4 linked regions of the Homo sapiens genome follow. The protein of the gene in region 3 purifies or fractionates together with the protein of the main gene of each other region. This does not show direct contact. Each region holds a gene or a part of one and is shown on either strand. Other genes may lie near its edges. The genes, in order: MB21D2, PKP2, SERPINB1 and PICALM.

What was found.
Region 1: the proteins of SERPINB1 (region 3) and MB21D2 fractionate together in Homo sapiens (co-fractionation; one large-scale study listed by BioGRID). This does not show direct contact.
Region 2: the proteins of SERPINB1 (region 3) and PKP2 purify together in Homo sapiens (co-immunoprecipitation; one large-scale study listed by IntAct). This does not show direct contact.
Region 4: the proteins of SERPINB1 (region 3) and PICALM fractionate together in Homo sapiens (co-fractionation; one large-scale study listed by BioGRID). This does not show direct contact.

Annotation. Positions count from the first base shown.
Region 1 is NC_000003.12:192,911,004-192,915,303, forward strand, and holds part of MB21D2 (nucleotidyltransferase MB21D2), read right to left. Parts: intron 1-4,300. UniProt on the Homo sapiens protein: Probable nucleotidyltransferase that catalyzes the formation of cyclic dinucleotide second messenger in response to some unknown stimulus.
Region 2 is NC_000012.12:32,789,808-32,793,369, forward strand, and holds the end of PKP2 (plakophilin-2), read right to left. Parts: intron 2,925-3,562; coding exon 2,837-2,924; intron 2,686-2,836; coding exon 2,617-2,685; coding exon of another isoform or gene 2,472-2,616; 3' UTR 948-2,471; downstream 1-947. UniProt on the Homo sapiens protein: A component of desmosome cell-cell junctions which are required for positive regulation of cellular adhesion.
Region 3 is NC_000006.12:2,831,301-2,835,600, reverse strand, and holds the end of SERPINB1 (leukocyte elastase inhibitor), read left to right. Parts: intron 1-1,588; coding exon 1,589-1,993; 3' UTR 1,994-3,269; downstream 3,270-4,300.
Region 4 is NC_000011.10:85,974,735-85,979,034, forward strand, and holds part of PICALM (phosphatidylinositol-binding clathrin assembly protein), read right to left. Parts: intron 3,360-4,300; coding exon of another isoform or gene 3,336-3,359; intron 1,949-3,335; coding exon 1,889-1,948; intron 79-1,888; coding exon 1-78. UniProt on the Homo sapiens protein: Cytoplasmic adapter protein that plays a critical role in clathrin-mediated endocytosis which is important in processes such as internalization of cell receptors, synaptic transmission or removal of apoptotic cells.

The sequences.
Region 1 (4,300 bases), on a different chromosome or scaffold from region 3:
TTTAGAAACTGAGGCTTAAAGTCTGAGTGACTTGCCCAACGTCACACAGCAAATGTTAATAACTGGAGATTCAGAGGTAAAATCTGGGTCTCTTGGTCCTGAGTGCAGAATATTGTCCTTGTTAAAAGCCAGGGTTTTGTATTCATCCTGACCCAGGTTAAGTCCCACCTATGCCACTCACTTGCTGGTAAACTTGGATGAATTCCTATATTTTTCTAATTCTAGGGTTCACCACAGTTTTTTTTTTTTAACCTCAAAGTGTAATGGTGATGATTAAATGATACAGTAAAGTCCTATTAAAACCTGTGACATAGTAAACACCCTTGTCTCACTCACTATGCCTTTTTGTCTCTGTCCCAGGTGGAAGAACTCCACTATTACTTTCCAGGAGCAGACAGACATTATCTGCTCATTAGGCTCAGCAGCTTGGTTCTAGTCTCAAAAGTCAACTGGGATCATGCTCACTGTGCCTAGAACAGAGAATGCAGAACATCAAGCCTAACACAGGACAGGATGTTGACATGCTGAGCAGCTTGTTGGGGGATCTCTAGGGAATTCGGATTCAATAGGTCTGAATGGGACCAGAGATTTTGAATTGTTAGAATCTAATATTTCTGTGAATTAAAAAGGGGCTCAGCCTAACTGTGAGCAATGTATTATCCAATGAGTGGCATGACAAGGAATGACAGGAAGACCCAGGACTGTCGACAGTTCTAGGCCTCTTCTCTCAAGGACGAAGGGCAGCCACTGCCCAGAACCATGGAGGGGGAATTGAAACCAATCCAAACTAGCACAAAAATGAATGTTTGGAGAGATCCCCTGCCCTGGATACATAATGTTCTCAGAGATAGAACAAACTTCCGAGATGATCCTGTGCACTCTACAGATGCAGCACATAGTGAATACAACTCTCGGGAACTTTCCAAGCACATGGAGGCCCATAAAACACCAACGCACCATAAATTTCCATGGTAAATCCTGCTGGGGGAATTCATTAACAGAAAAGTAGCAATCAAACACTGGAAAGGTAGGGCTTCAAAATTACCCACTCTGGAGATGTAGAAAGTGCCTAAAAATATGGTAGGTCCAGGAGCACCACACCAAGCATTTACATCTTTGAAATGGCCACATGGCACTTATTGGCCTGAAAGGAGAAACAGCCAGCAAAATATCCTGCTAGAGTTGGTGGGCAAAGGAAACAGGGGAGGGGTCCCTGAAGGCCCTTATGAATTTCTCAAAGTTTTTGTTCACCATTTTATCTTCAGAACCCTGCACGCTGATTGGCAAACACTATTACATTCATTAAGTATTTGTCAAATGCGTGAAAAAAACAGAGGGAGAGAAAGAGGGACAGAGACAGGAAGACAAAAAGAAATTATCTCAGGCGGGGCATGGTGGCTTACGCCTGTAATCCCAGCACTTTGGGAGGCCGAGGTGGGTGGATCACCTGAGGTCAGGAGTTCTAGACCAGCCTTGGCCAACAACATGGTGAAACCCCATCTCTACTAAAAATACAAAAATTGGCCAGGTGTGGTAGCGGGCGCCTGTAATCCCAGCTACTCGGGAGGCTGAGGCAGGAGAATCACTTGAACCCAGGAGGCAGAGGTTGCAGTGAGCCAAGATCATGCCACTGCACTCCAGCCTGGGCAACAAGGGCAAAACTGTATCTCAAAAAAAAAAGAAAAAAGAAAAAAAGAAATTATCTTTGCTCCTACAGACTAGGCAGGCTACTGAGTATAGTATGTCTCACCCAAAAGTGATGGAAACTGATTGCTACTACAGTAAAAGGAACATGAGCTTCTGAGTCAGGAATAACTGGATTCAGTCTCCAACTCTGAATGATCTTGGCCTAAGTTCTTGACTTCTTTCTTTGAGCCTCACCATTTCATCTTTAAAAAGGGTAACAACACCTATTTCACTTCCAAAATAGGCATGATACTTATGCTTACAAAGTTGTGGAAAAAAGATTACATGAGCTAATGGACTTAGGCAAAGTAGCTAGCACAATGGTCAGCACATGGTATGAGCCAAAATCCTCCTGGGCTACCCTAATTGTACTGCATAGTTCTTTCAGATGTCAAGCTGCAGAAATAATTCCAATTTAAGTTCACTGGATCTTCTAAGAAAGTATATTTTTATCCCAGCACTCTGGGAGGTCAAAGCAGGAGGATTGCTTGAACTCAGGGGTGTGAGACCAGCCTGGGCAACATGGCGAAACCCTGTCTCTACCAAAAATACAAAAAACTAGCCAGGCGTGGTGTTACACGCCTGCACTCCTAGCTACTTGGGAGGCTGGGGTGGGAGGATCACTTGGAGCCCAGGAAGTAGAGGTTGCAGTGAGCTGAGACTGTACCACTGCACTCTAGCCTAGGTGACAGAGCGAGACCCTGTCTCAAATAAATAAATAAACAAACATTTATTTAAATAATAAACTCACGTATATATTCTTTTTTAGTTAGCAAAGTAATTTCACATTCTGACATAACAGTTCTGAAAAACAATGCTTACTGTTATCCATGTTTAATAAATGAAAAAACTGGCCAGGCATGGTGGCTCATGCCTGTAATACCAGCACTTTGGGAGGCCAAGCCAGAAGGATCACTTGAGGCCAGGATTTTGAGACCAGCCTGGGCAACATAGTGAGACTCCATCTACACAAAAATTTTAAAAAATAAAAAATTAGCTGGGCACGGTGGTACACATCTCTAGTCCTAGCCACTAGGGAGGCTGAGACAGGAAGATAGCTTACGCCTAGGACTTTGAGGCTGCGGTGAGCCATGATCATACTATTGCACTCCAGGCTGGGCAACGGAGCAAGATCCTGTCTCAAAAAAAGAGAGAGAAAATACTAAGACCACAAAGCCAACAAGAGGCAGACTGGGAATGAAACTATAGATTTTAACATTTTATTATAATTACTATGATTTTCTCAATCAAAAATTCAAATAGGAGATCTTATTATAGAATACTTGAACTCAGACTGTTCCAGAAATCTACTTATATTACGCTAAAACTTATAGCTAAAATCGAAACAAAATCCTGAAAGAAGTGATTTTTTAAAACAAAGCCTTTCCTCTGGATTTTATGCATCTATTCTTAATAGTCTCAAGTAGGAGAAGAGGAACATGTTTTAGAGTAAGGCTGACCTGAGTTTCAGTAGCATCTCTACCATCTATTAGCTTTGTGACCCTGGATATCCACTTTCTTCACCCCACTAAATTTCAATATCTTCATCTATGTAATGGGAAAGCAATACCTCCTCAAAAGTCTATGTGAAGTTCCTGGCCCTGAGAAGATGATTAGTAAATGATTAACTACCGTAAAAATCATGCCATGGTACCGACCACTTGGTCTGTAGGTTAGGTGACGGCTTGTTTCTTTCCTGCCTTCTCCAGCATCTGCATACCCCCTTTTCTGCATCTGTTCAATGGGGACACAAACCAGTCTCTATCGAACCTCACCAGGGAATGAAGATAACAAAAGAGCTGGCAGAGACATTATGCTAATACCAAATATTATTAAAACATTAATGAACTCTGGCAATTTCCCTGAATTTTGATAAATGGTGTTTATTATGCACTGCCAGCCTTTCGCACAGTCTGGGCTCTCAAATATTAACTAGATAATAACACCAATCATTCTCCTAAAAGACCAAGGTACAGAGGAATAAGAAGTGAATCTAGACAATTGCAGCTAACACCTGCCTCCAAAAAAAAATCAGAATCTCTGTACAAACAGAGAGCATCAGGACAGACCCCAGAGACCACAGTGACCACCAGCAAGCTCAGATCAACCCCACAGCCTGTGCAGAACCCTACTTTGATAAGACAGTGGAGTGTCTTGGTGTTGACAGGTCATTGATTATGACAGCTGTCTACCACCTCCTTGCTCTTCAGTGTAAAATTCCTCCAAACTAGACAAAATGAAAAGGATCTGTGAAGCTGGAGGGGCTTCAGACTTGGCTAACAATCTTACACAAAAAGAGAGTAACATGCCTCACCCCTGCCAACTGCCTGAAACATGAGGCAGTATTTTTCTCAGCTCCACTAAAGAGGCTTGCACCCAATTCGTGGTTGGCCACTTCATTCTGTGTGAGGGGATAATATCTGTAAGCTGCTAACAATCCCCAGGTGCAGCTCAGATACAGAACAAAGCCAAGAGGACTGGCCACCCTCCACCCCCCCGCCCTGAAATGAGGGCCTGGTACCACCCAAGTAACACCTTAACAAGCTAGGGGTCATTAAGAGACTTCATTTGCATAGTCATCAAAGAACCAAAGCTATGGCAAGTGAAACAAAGT
Region 2 (3,562 bases), on a different chromosome or scaffold from region 3:
CCTCCTTATTCCAAAGCAGTAAGTTCATTAGACATTTTATTTAGGGGAAATCTCATTTTATAACTATAGTATATAGGCACACATACACATACACACACATATATATATATATGTAGGTGTCTATATATAAACGTATGTGTGTGTGTGTGTATATATATATATATCTCCCATCTCCTGTTTTCTTCTAAGAAATTGCTTCTTCAGAAGGTGATTAAATTGGTTTTATAGTGGTTTATCTAGTCCTGCTGCTTATTCTCCCACTTGACATGTTAATCCCCTCTCTATTTTATCAGATAACCCTTTGGTTATTGCCATCAGATCTACACAAACGTTTCCAGTGATGGAAATCTAGGGCAGCAACCCCCTTCATTCCAGAAGACCATTAAGAATTCTTGACAGAGAGCAGCCCTTTGGAACAAATAAACAAAAAGGCCCAGCTTTGCCCATTAGTTTCTCTGAAGGCATGGGCCCTGTCTGGGACACATAGGAAAACAAACACATTTATGTATAGACCTGTGATCAAAACTGTTCATTCACAGAAGAACCTCCCTGAGAGGTGTTCACAAATTGTAAAGTAGTGAGGTGTTTGCAAACAGAGTGAACAAAGCAGCACATGGAAATCAAACGTAGTCTGTCTTTTCACAGTCACAGAATCACCCAATAATATACTAAAATCTAACCGCAGCTAACACGTCTGCATGTGTCTTCATTTTTATGGTCAGGTCACCATCTAGTCCCACCATTCTCACAGGAAATGTCTCTTGGTAAAAATTTAGGATTTTAATTAAGGGGAAAATATAACTAATTACAAAGTATCAAACCCTTAGTAATTGAAGTTTATAAGGTTAAATCCTCAAATTTTATGTCAATCATACCATATATTCCAAGATACACAAATAAACCAGATATACACAGACGCCAATGCAAGCAACACTACTTTGGTCTCATTTTGTATTTAATATTATCGAAGGCTTTATTAATGCCTTAAAAAACACAAAAAGTTCTGAACACACATTTATTATCTGGAGGAATAAATGCACTCCAAATGCTTATCATCAGAACTCTGGAAAAAGACATATAAATTCTCTCCAGTATTTTAAAAATTGGTATCTAAATAATTTCATTTTGAACTAGGTTAGCAACCTAAGTTGTCTTCATTCAGCTTTTAAAATTGAAAAAAAATTGCTTCAAATATAATAAAGACTTAAGTACACATTCAAAATTTATTTTCTGTTACAGTTTTCTTGCCAAAAGGAGTTGAAGAATTTTTTTGCTTATCTTACTTAGGACAAATGTTGTCAGATTAAAAAAAAAAATAACAGAATAGTAGTTGTAAAGACTAACTCTATATGAATGGTTTTAATCATAGCGCAGTTAAAACAACATTTAATGTAGATTCATTTCGCTGGATGATGTCAACCATTTAAAATATCAGTATTTCTCATATCATTTCTGGATGGTCTTGACACATTCTTACATCTTCTTCAACATGACTTCTTCACTTTTCTTCTCTAGAGTTTTCTTGAGTTAAAATAATGGCTTGAAGAAGATCATATGAGATCTAGTGGCTCTGTGATATTTCTTAAATGGTGGGCAAGGCTGGGCTGGCTGATAATGTAACTCATTAACATGAGCCGTATTTTCAGTGCCCCAGGCTGGCCAGGCAGTCTGAGAGAAGGCCTTAGTTCCTCTTGCAGATAAAGATAGAGTCCATTCTTTCACTAGTCCAGGGCAGTGGCCAAAAAAGTCCAGGAAAGGCATTACATAGAATGCCATCGTTTAGAAGAGATTTGGATTTAACGGCGTTGTTATAGGTAAAGTATCTCCTGAGAAAAATCTCATTGACTCAGTGTTTGGGGGAACGTTAAATTTTATCATCACAGTTGCCTTTCTCTGTGGAAAAGATTTTATTTATTTATTTATTTTTTATTTTACTTTAAGTTCTGGGAGGAAAAGACTTCTTTAATTTGCTATGATCACTTCCTCTCAATTTCTTTTTCTTACAGTCATGCATACTCTGTAATCTAAATTTCTTAAGTTTATTTAAAAATCAGAGAAAAACAACCCAAGGGGATAAAAACAAGCACAAAGTAAAGAAAGAAACCAATAATTTTGCCATTATACTTTCTCCTGGATAACTGCAGATATTTCTTGTCATTTCCATTCTGTTTCAACACTGCAGAACAATACACTGGAGGCCCAATGGCGAAGCAATGTGCACATGAGTGACAAAACATGGGAACCAGAAAAGGAATATAAATGTAAATCAAACTTTTAAAATCCCAGTAATGCAACAGCTTCTTTCCTTATTTATTGGATTAATGTCCCTTCCACATGAATTCACATTTTGATTCCAGGAAGCCATGTACCATAAGCCCTAATAACAAAGACCACTATTTGTCGAGCCTGTGGCCGGTATCTACTGGTGGCAAACTTGCAAAGGTCTTCTGGAAGACTCATAAAATTATGTTCTATTTGTTTTCTGGATTCAGGGGACCACGGAAATAGAGAAGGATAGAAACAAGGCATGCTTTTGAGGTTTCTTGGGCTGGGTAGTAGAAAAATAGGTGTTTTCCTTTGGGGATTTTTGCAGCCGAGAATACTTTGTCATTTTCCTCAGTCTTTAAGGGAGTGGTAGGCTTTGGCAGTCCGGCTGTTGACAAAATCTGTCTTCTTAAACTGAGCCTTTGGAATAAGCAAACAGAAACGTGAAAGGTAACAAAACTGGCACACAAGAAAATGCAGTTTTTTAGCGATTTCTTCCCAGGGTCAAGTCAAGTGGGCCATTATTACCTGGCTCTGTTAACTATGACACATTCCTTGTTCATGTTCTTACCTTCTTGTAGGCATGATGCAGTTCCGTGTGTGCCCACAGAGAATACAGAAGGACGGAAGCAGCTTTACTTGCTTTGTTGGAGGCATAGCTGAAAAGAAAAGGACATTCTGAGATCAGGGAGAATGAGTGAGGCTTCTGGATGCGGCCTGTGGGTGTTCTGTAAGACCTCTTCGCTCCTCAACTGCTACTCCGCAGCAGCCATCCATGAAGTCAGGCCACTCGGTGACCAGACAATTAGGCAGCAAGCTCTGCAAGGCGGGGACCATATCTGTTTTTGTTTTCTTTTTAAACCACTAGCACAGTGCTAATAAATAAATAGTTTATAGGCCAGGTGGGGTGGCTCACGCCTGTAATCCCAGCACTTTTGGGAGGCTGAGGTGGGTAGATCACGAGGTCAGACCATCCTGGCCAACATGGTGAAACCCCGTCTGTACTAAAAATACAAAATCTAGCTGGGCGTGGCAGTGTGTGCCTGTAATCCCAGCTACTCGGGAGGCTGAGGCAGGAGAATCACTTGAACCCGGGAGGCGGAGGTTGCAGTGAGCCGAGATCACGCCACTGCACTCCAGCCTGGTGACAAAGCTAGACTCCATCTCAAAATAATAATAATAATAATAAACAAACAAGTAATTTATACAGAAAAATCCCTGATATTTATAAGGAATGTATCTTTAGATATGTTATAAATCCTTGAATTATTTATAGAATATAATCTATATTTGTATA
Region 3 (4,300 bases):
CCTTCTGAGTAGCTGGGACTATAGCTGTGAGCCACTGTGCCCGGCTAACGTTTCATTTTTCAAGAAAGATGGCCAGCTACTTTCAGTGGACACTTGTGATGGGGTCATTAAAGATCTATACTAAATATAATACTGGTTAGTGGCAGCTCATGGAAAGGCTCTTGAATTAGCTTTAGAGGAAATTACAGTAAGATGAGGATTGTTTTACTGAGGAAAAAGATTGAAAAGCCCCAAATAGTGTAGCATATATCTTCATCACGTACTATAAAATTCTATTATTACACTGTTTGTTCTCATCACAATTCATATAGATAGTGAATTAAATTTTCAATGGGTACAAGACAGAAAAAGCCTCATGTGACATGTTAGGCCTATTTACTAGTATGATCTTTGCATGAGGTTTCCATTATATGTAGGGACTCTAGCCTGCTCTGTGCTCTCCGTCTCCTCCCTATCCACCTATTCATCATCCTTGCTATCAGGAAGGGGGTCTAATGTTAATCATTTGCATGTACAGACTTTTAATACATTGTATAACAATCAATGTGGCCTTTCTTTTGGTTGTATTTTTGCATTAGTTTTTTTTCTGATTGTAAAGTGAAAATCTCTAGCCTCTTAAAAGGAATTATCAGCACCATTAGAAGAAGTAGAGTGATGGTTCTATTCCAGTCCAATAGCTATAACAATAGTAATGATAATAGCTGACATTTATGTAGCACTATGGGCCAAGCACTTTATATACATCATTTCATTTAATGCTCTCAACAATCTATAAGGTAGATATAAGTAATGTCCACATCACATTTCAGATGAGGAACTAGCTCCAGTGCATAATCTGCCTTTAAAATTTTTACCTAGGAGCTAAAGTTATTAGATATTACTTCAGCTTCAGTGGGATTCAGACTAAATAGAAGAAATATTTTAAATTTCTTCTAGCACTACTCAACCTGGAAGTAATAGCAGCTGTCATGACCTATCACTGTAATCCATTGTGGTAGGGGTTTAGTAAACCCTGGATGAATGGATGGATGGATGAATGGGTAGATGGATGGGTGGATGGGTGGATGAGTAAATGGGTGGATGGATGATAGATAGGTGGATAGATTGTTGGATGGGTGGGTGGGTGGATAGGTGAATGGATGGATGGATGGGTGGATGGGTAGATGGATGATGAATAGGTGGATAGATGGTTGGATGGGTGGGTGGGTAGATAGGTGAATAAATGGATGGATGGATGGGTGGCTGTGTTGCTGGGTAGCTGGGTGGATGGATGGATGGATGGATGGATGGATGGATGGATGGATGAGTGGACAAATGGGTGGATGGATGGGTGGATGGGTGGGTGAGTGGATGATGGACCCAATGTACAAATCCCTTGAACCTTTGATGACTTGGAACACCACCTCTGCCCTATTTCACCAATTGCCATAATGAAATAAAATGCTCCAAATGGAATCTGTTTTGGCACAAAACATGAAGGAAACTAACTAGCAACTGATATTATGGGTCCATTGATTCAATAATACTTTATTGCCTTACTTATGTAAAATTGATATCACTTCCTCTTTCGCCTCATTTTTAATTGCAGATTGAGGAACAGTTGACTTTGGAAAAGTTGCATGAGTGGACTAAACCTGAGAATCTCGATTTCATTGAAGTTAATGTCAGCTTGCCCAGGTTCAAACTGGAAGAGAGTTACACTCTCAACTCCGACCTCGCCCGCCTAGGTGTGCAGGATCTCTTTAACAGTAGCAAGGCTGATCTGTCTGGCATGTCAGGAGCCAGAGATATTTTTATATCAAAAATTGTCCACAAGTCATTTGTGGAAGTGAATGAAGAGGGAACAGAGGCGGCAGCTGCCACAGCAGGCATCGCAACTTTCTGCATGTTGATGCCCGAAGAAAATTTCACTGCCGACCATCCATTCCTTTTCTTTATTCGGCATAATTCCTCAGGTAGCATCCTATTCTTGGGGAGATTTTCTTCCCCTTAGAAGAAAGAGACTGTAGCAATACAAAAATCAAGCTTAGTGCTTTATTACCTGAGTTTTTAATAGAGCCAATATGTCTTATATCTTTACCAATAAAACCACTGTTCAGAAACAAGTCTTTCATTTTCTTTGTAAGTTTGGCTCTGTTGGCTGTTTACACCCATGAATTTTGGCATGGGTATCTATTTTTCTTTTTTACATTGAAAAAAATCCAGTGGTTGCTTTTGAATGCATCAAGTAAAGAAGAAGAAAAGAATACATCCGATGCGTAGATTCTTGACCATGTAGTAATCTATAAAATTGCTATATCCTCCTGATAGCCATGGGAAAACATGATAAGATGGTCATTTATTTTGCAGTTAGAATTTTGGAAGCCACAAAATAGACAGACACCCTGACTGTTGAAGGGAGGTTTAAAAACAGATATTCAATTGAAATGTAAGAGAGCACCCCAATTGAGAGCCCAGGTTACGAAGACAAGCTTGCCTCGCCTGACTTTTCTGTCCCTTGTTCTGCAGGATTAGTATTCTGTTACAGACCTCTAGTTTTTAGACTCTTCAATTAAAGGGCCAATGGTTATAACCTGCATTCCCTTTTTTGTTCTTCTTTATGTATAATATATAGTTCATGTGGCGCTGCATGAAATCAAGAAGTGGGTGTCTTAGGATAAAAGATACCAAGAGTCTACAAAAATAACCATGTAGTAAGATAAACTGCTGAACAAAGGTTTTACTGTTAGCCACCTTCTCATGTGTTTTCTTTTCTCTTTTTCTTTTTCTTTCTTTCTTTCTTTTTTTTTTTTTTGAGACAGAGTCTTGCTCTGTTACCCAGGCTGGAGTGCAGTGGCACGATCTCAGCTCACCGCAACCTCTGCCTCCTGGGTTCAAGTGATTCTCTTGCTTCAGCCTCCTGAGTAGCTGGGATTATAGGCATGCACCACTAGGCCTGGCTAATTTTTGTATTTTTAGTAGAGATGGGGTTTTTCCATGTTGGCCAGGCTGGTCCCGAACTCCTGACCTCAGGTGATCCGCGCACCTCAGCCTCCCAAAGTGCTGGGATTACAGGCATGAGCTACCATGCCTGGCCTTCTCATGTGTTTTCTGATTAAGGCTCTTGACTTCCAAGGCTGTGTGGGGAGATGGGGTGGGGGCTCTTGGACTGATATAAAACTTTGTCAAATGTAGTTCTTTGAATGGAGCTTGAAACGCCGCATATTCTTGCTCCCACAAGGATAGTGGGCATCATGAATTAATAAAACGTCCTAGGATTCTGCAAGCTAGACTGGTCTCAGGCCTCTTCTTATTGCCCCCTATCCCTAGACAAGTTAAGACTGCAAGTGGGGATTATTGGCCTTACAACATTGTTGGTAGAGAGGAATTCCACATGTTAACAACAAAATTTTAGCAACTCTTTTGCCAACAAACTTTCTTTTCTCCCGCTTTCTTAAAATACTTACCATATTCCAGGTTTTCTCACTCTCAGGAAAAACTCTGCCTTCTGTAAGTCTTCTCTTTTGGTTCCTCATCCTAAAATCCACTCTGATTTGGAGTAAATCATGTTAATTGTGTAGAAACTGAATTGTAGGGGCCCAAGTGAGCCCGCTCAAATTATATATGAGGGAACAGGCCTATAGACTATAAGTAAATTGTTGAAGGTCAAAACAATTGGTGAGTTCCAGGGCAGAGACTAGAATCCAATGCGTATTTTATGTGGAGAGCATCTAATTTATGTAATGGTGAAATAGTTACCTCAGGCCTCTGAAGTCAGTTAAAAATCAAACAAATAAAACGAGCATCAGCCCAAAGGCAAGGGAGGGCTAATCTGAACATAAAGAATTATTGGGCCAAGATCCAGAACAAATTGGAAATTCAGAAAAGTGAATCTGGAAATTGGGGCCACTTCTGCCCCAGGGCCATCTGCCAGTCCAGAAGAGGGGAATGAGAAGTGGTAGACAGAGTTTGAGCCTGTCAAGAGTGGGGGCGCCATGATACTGCCTCTGCTTTTGTTTGGCATCCTAAGAGCTATGCCCTATGAGTATGACAGAGTCAGCTCAGAATGCAGCCCTGCTATAAGTCATTGGACAGCCCAGAACTTTCCAATCCCTAGAAGTAGATTATTTTCATCCTGGTTTGCTGCTACCCAGGGGCACATTGCAGAAGCAAACAAAAATCATATTTTGGGGAAAATTACCCGTAAACCTCAAATCATGTTTATCATCAGCTTTTATAATATGATATCCGGCACATAATCAAAGGTAATTGGACAGTTGAGGAGCCGTGACAATGTAAACTAAAACCAGCACAAAAGATA
Region 4 (4,300 bases), on a different chromosome or scaffold from region 3:
GTTTGGAGGTCTCATGACAGGCTGGCTGTATATTAAGGTTGGTTGCGTCATTACAGGAACACTTCCCATTTGTGGAGGCTAAAAAAGAGAAAAATATCAAAAGATACTGACTCCTATCTTCCTTATTGTGACTAAGTAAATAACAATGACAACAGGGATGACAGGTCCTAGTACCTTTGCTTGACTCAAAGGGTAACTTCCTCTGAATATAAGTAAGACTAACAGCTACAAACTTTCGAGAGTATTTTTTTTTCTTTTGGTAAGTAAAGTCTTTAACATGCTCATTTTTAAAATGTAGTAACAAAGCCTAACTTTTTCTATTCAATGAGTTGCAAAATGTAAACTTTATTGTATTACAACAGATAAAATGATTAAGACTAAGAGTTTCCAAATTTATCAGGTTTAGACATCAAGAAAACTTAAGACTCTGTCTTCGCTGCTAAGAAATTTCAAAGTAAATTTGTATAACAAATCAAGTACTTTTGCCATTATGCAAGTGATCACAAGTGAAGACAGTTGATTCTCTGAATAAGCCTGCTCTAGTTCTTCCATTTTATTTCATATAAGAATCAAGAAAGAGCTTAAACTACAAACCAGAGGTTAACTCTTTCTTGAGTAACTGAAAATACAATCTCAACCAAATATGTTTCTTTAAAAATTACCACTACAGGGTATAAAATTAACCTAGTAAGTGACAATACCTAGTGTAAAAATAATGCACAAACAGAATACTGTTTTGGTTAAAATGCAATGCTCTAAAATCTTTCCTTTCAAGAAGTTCTATTTATTGTTTCAAGCAGACTACTATTTGCATTTAGAGCTTCATTTTAAGTTTATGGCCTGAGTTTCTCAGCAGACTTTTTTTTTTTTTTTTTTTTTTGAGATGGAGTCTTGCTCCGTTGCCCAGACTGGAGTGCAGTGGCATGATCTCAACTCACTGTGACCTCTGCCTCCTGGGTTCAAGCCATTCTCCTGCCTCAGCCTCCCAAGTAGCTGGAATTACAGGTGTGCGCCACCATACCCAGCTAATTTTTGTATTTTTAGTAGAGACGGAGTTTCACCATATTGGTCAGGCTGGTCTTGAACTCCCAACCTCAGGTGATCCACCCACCTTGGCCTCCCAAAGTGCTGGGATTACAGGCGTAAGCCACCACACCCAGCCTCAGCAGACATTTTAATGCAATGACTATGAAAAAAAGCTGTGAAACTTCTCCACATGTATAAAAGGAGTTACTTCCATATCATATACATAAAGAAGTAACATAGCAGGCACAGTAGCAATACCAAGGGACACGGTACTGCCTTCTACCAGGAACAGTTCCTCAAATACATACCAGTGGGTTGAAGCTACTAGCACCATTTCTTTTCTAATTGAGTCTCTATATACTGAGAGTTGGGAAACTAAGGGCAATCTAAAATGCACATTGTGGCATTTTGAAAGGTTAAAAGACTGTTTTTGTACTGTAATAATCATTGTCACAGGAAAATTTCTCTAGCCTTTATCAGACTAAATTTATCTCTATACAATTCAAGTGTTAATCCCTCCCATGCCCTACAATATCAGGTTATAAGACCTCACTGGTATTTAATATATGGTCACAGCAACAAAGGCTTAGAATTAACATTAATGTTTGAAATATAAAAGGCCCAGCAAAGTTACGAGGAGAAAAATAAACCAAGTAATACTATGAACATTAATGCATAAGATCTCTTGTATAATGATTATTCTAGACATACTTATGAAACCAATGCTATGGTTCTACTGCATTAGGCACTAGGGCTAGGAGTATGAGGAGCACTAAATTCTTTTTTAGGTTAAATTGTAATAAAAACATGTTATATATGAATCAATATTTTTTCCAAAAGCTGTACCTAGGAAAATACTTACAATTCCATATCCTATCATGCCTGTTGGTGTAGTAGCAGGATAGGCCATTACAGGGGGTGCCTAACATAGTGAAAGGAAAAATGAACAAGAAAGTATAACTCATGTGTGTCAACTGAGTTCAAGGAATTAGTAGCTGTAGTTCCACTAAAAAGAATTGCTAAGACAGCTGTGAGTAAGTGACACTTGTGATCATTAAGAACTGTCGATTAATGGTCAGTGAAAAAAAGTGTTTTGAAATTAGCAGAAAAGCAGACTTATTAGAAGGATAACTATACCACTTAAACTTAGATACAGCAGTGATCTAAGATTTCATCATGCTTTTTACAGCTTTAAAAATCTTTAGATTTAAAAAAGTATCTTAAATAGTTCTAAATAGTTCTAAAATTTAAAGCCTATCACTATCATTAAAAAATGTCTACCCAGAAAAAGTATTATTGAATGTTTTCTTACTTAGGTACCTGATTGCTTTAGCATTCAAAGAAAAAAATGTAAAGATCTCAAATCAATCAATAACCTGATCTTCCAAAAAGTTAGTTTCTAAGGATCTTACTCACTCTTTTCAAAAAACTCCAAAGGTTTCAAACTACTATTGAGTATGACTATTTCTATGAGCCATAGTTCTTATATAGAGTATGTACGTTAGCTTTCTAATTTATTCCAAAAATTATTTAAGAGGAACAATCAATTAGGTCAGTTTATGCTTTCATGTTTAAAAGAACCATCTATCACTATGATGTTTAAGTTCCCCTCTTCCTACTACTTTGATTATCTGTAAACATACAATTTGAGAACAGAATCATTTTAGATATAGTTGCTGTCTTAACAACATTTCCTGTGTGTGTTTCTCATAATGAAAACTGAAATTGAATAAAGGTGAAAGACCAATAACACTGCTAAAACATAAAATAACTGAAATTATATGGCAATTTGAACATATGCATGGAGAAATTAAATGAAATATAACTTTAAAAAAATAACACTAAAGTGAATAGTTATAAGTTTAGTATTCGGGTGAGCGTGTAGGACTTATTGGTCTCTCCCTACTTAAAACCAAGATCTGCAAGAGCAGTAGACAAACTGCCAAGAAGAGCAGAAGCCTGTAAGATTTCATGCAGTTGTTATTTTAAACATTACCACAATCAACATTTCCCTTCATTCAGAAGTCATCAAGTGCATAGTGGCAGCACAGATACACACACAGACACCCAGCCATCTGGCAGCAAATGGCGGAATATTAAGCAAGAAAAAAAATCGGTATTTCCCATGCCACCATCAGAATCAATTCTGCAACACACCCATGAAATCAGTAGATGCTAGGAAGAATTTCTGGCACATTGAAAATCTGAATGTGAAAACAAGTAATAGCTGAAAGGTTATGAGATTCTGCTACAGCAGTGGTTAATAGCATGCCAATTTATTGCAAAAAGGCTCGTTTTTGGTCACTTACGTATTGTGGAAAATGCATGCCATTCTGTTTTTCCCAGGGAGAACAATTACATAATGCAATAACACTGGATTAGAACAAGTACTTACACAACAGAAAATACACAGAGAGCATTTTAGTTCACATGTACATTCACTAACTACCTAAAATCCCTTGTATTTCCAGTATCTAATGAAAGAACATCTATACTAAAACACTATCAAGGTTGACAAGGGAATTGTAGTCTTTGGCCTCATCTCTTTATATAAAAAATAGTTTATTGATTACAAGTACCATTAAAACATCAATTCTATCAACAGTGTCAACAGTGCAAAATTTTGGGCATTGCATAAACAGGGTTGCATCAGATGTCTACCACAGAAAAAAAGCAAGCACTAATTAAAAGAATTTGTAGTATAATATATATTTTAATAAAATTCCAATGAATTTGTGTTAAATTTAAAAAACACTGAAAAACCTTGACAGTGTTTAAGGATTAATAAAAAGGTTAGAAATGTAAAGAAATGTCAAAAGCAGCAGTTTATCTTAAGTAGTGAATCACATTATCAGCCCCAAACATTAGCCATTAAAAAGAAAACTCCATAAAATACATATAAATATTTAAGCAAAATCCTTAGGAGATGATACACATTACCATATATAACACAGCAAGATAAAGACTGTTACCTTATCAACTTAAATACAAATTCTACATGACTAAATACCTACTACATTTTAGTAGTCAGTCTTAAGTGCTATCTATGAACTCCTAATACTTCATATAGATTAATACTAACTTAATATAAGAAAATATTCATTATATTTTAATAGCAGCACTGGTATTTATATCATTCCTCATACATCATCAATGTCATAATTCACACGAGTCCATAAAATCCACTACTCTAAACTCCTACCATACCCTAGTCAGTGAGGTGTGTTATAGTGGGAAGAAGACTGGATTCAGAGTCAAAGAGATGGATTTCAAC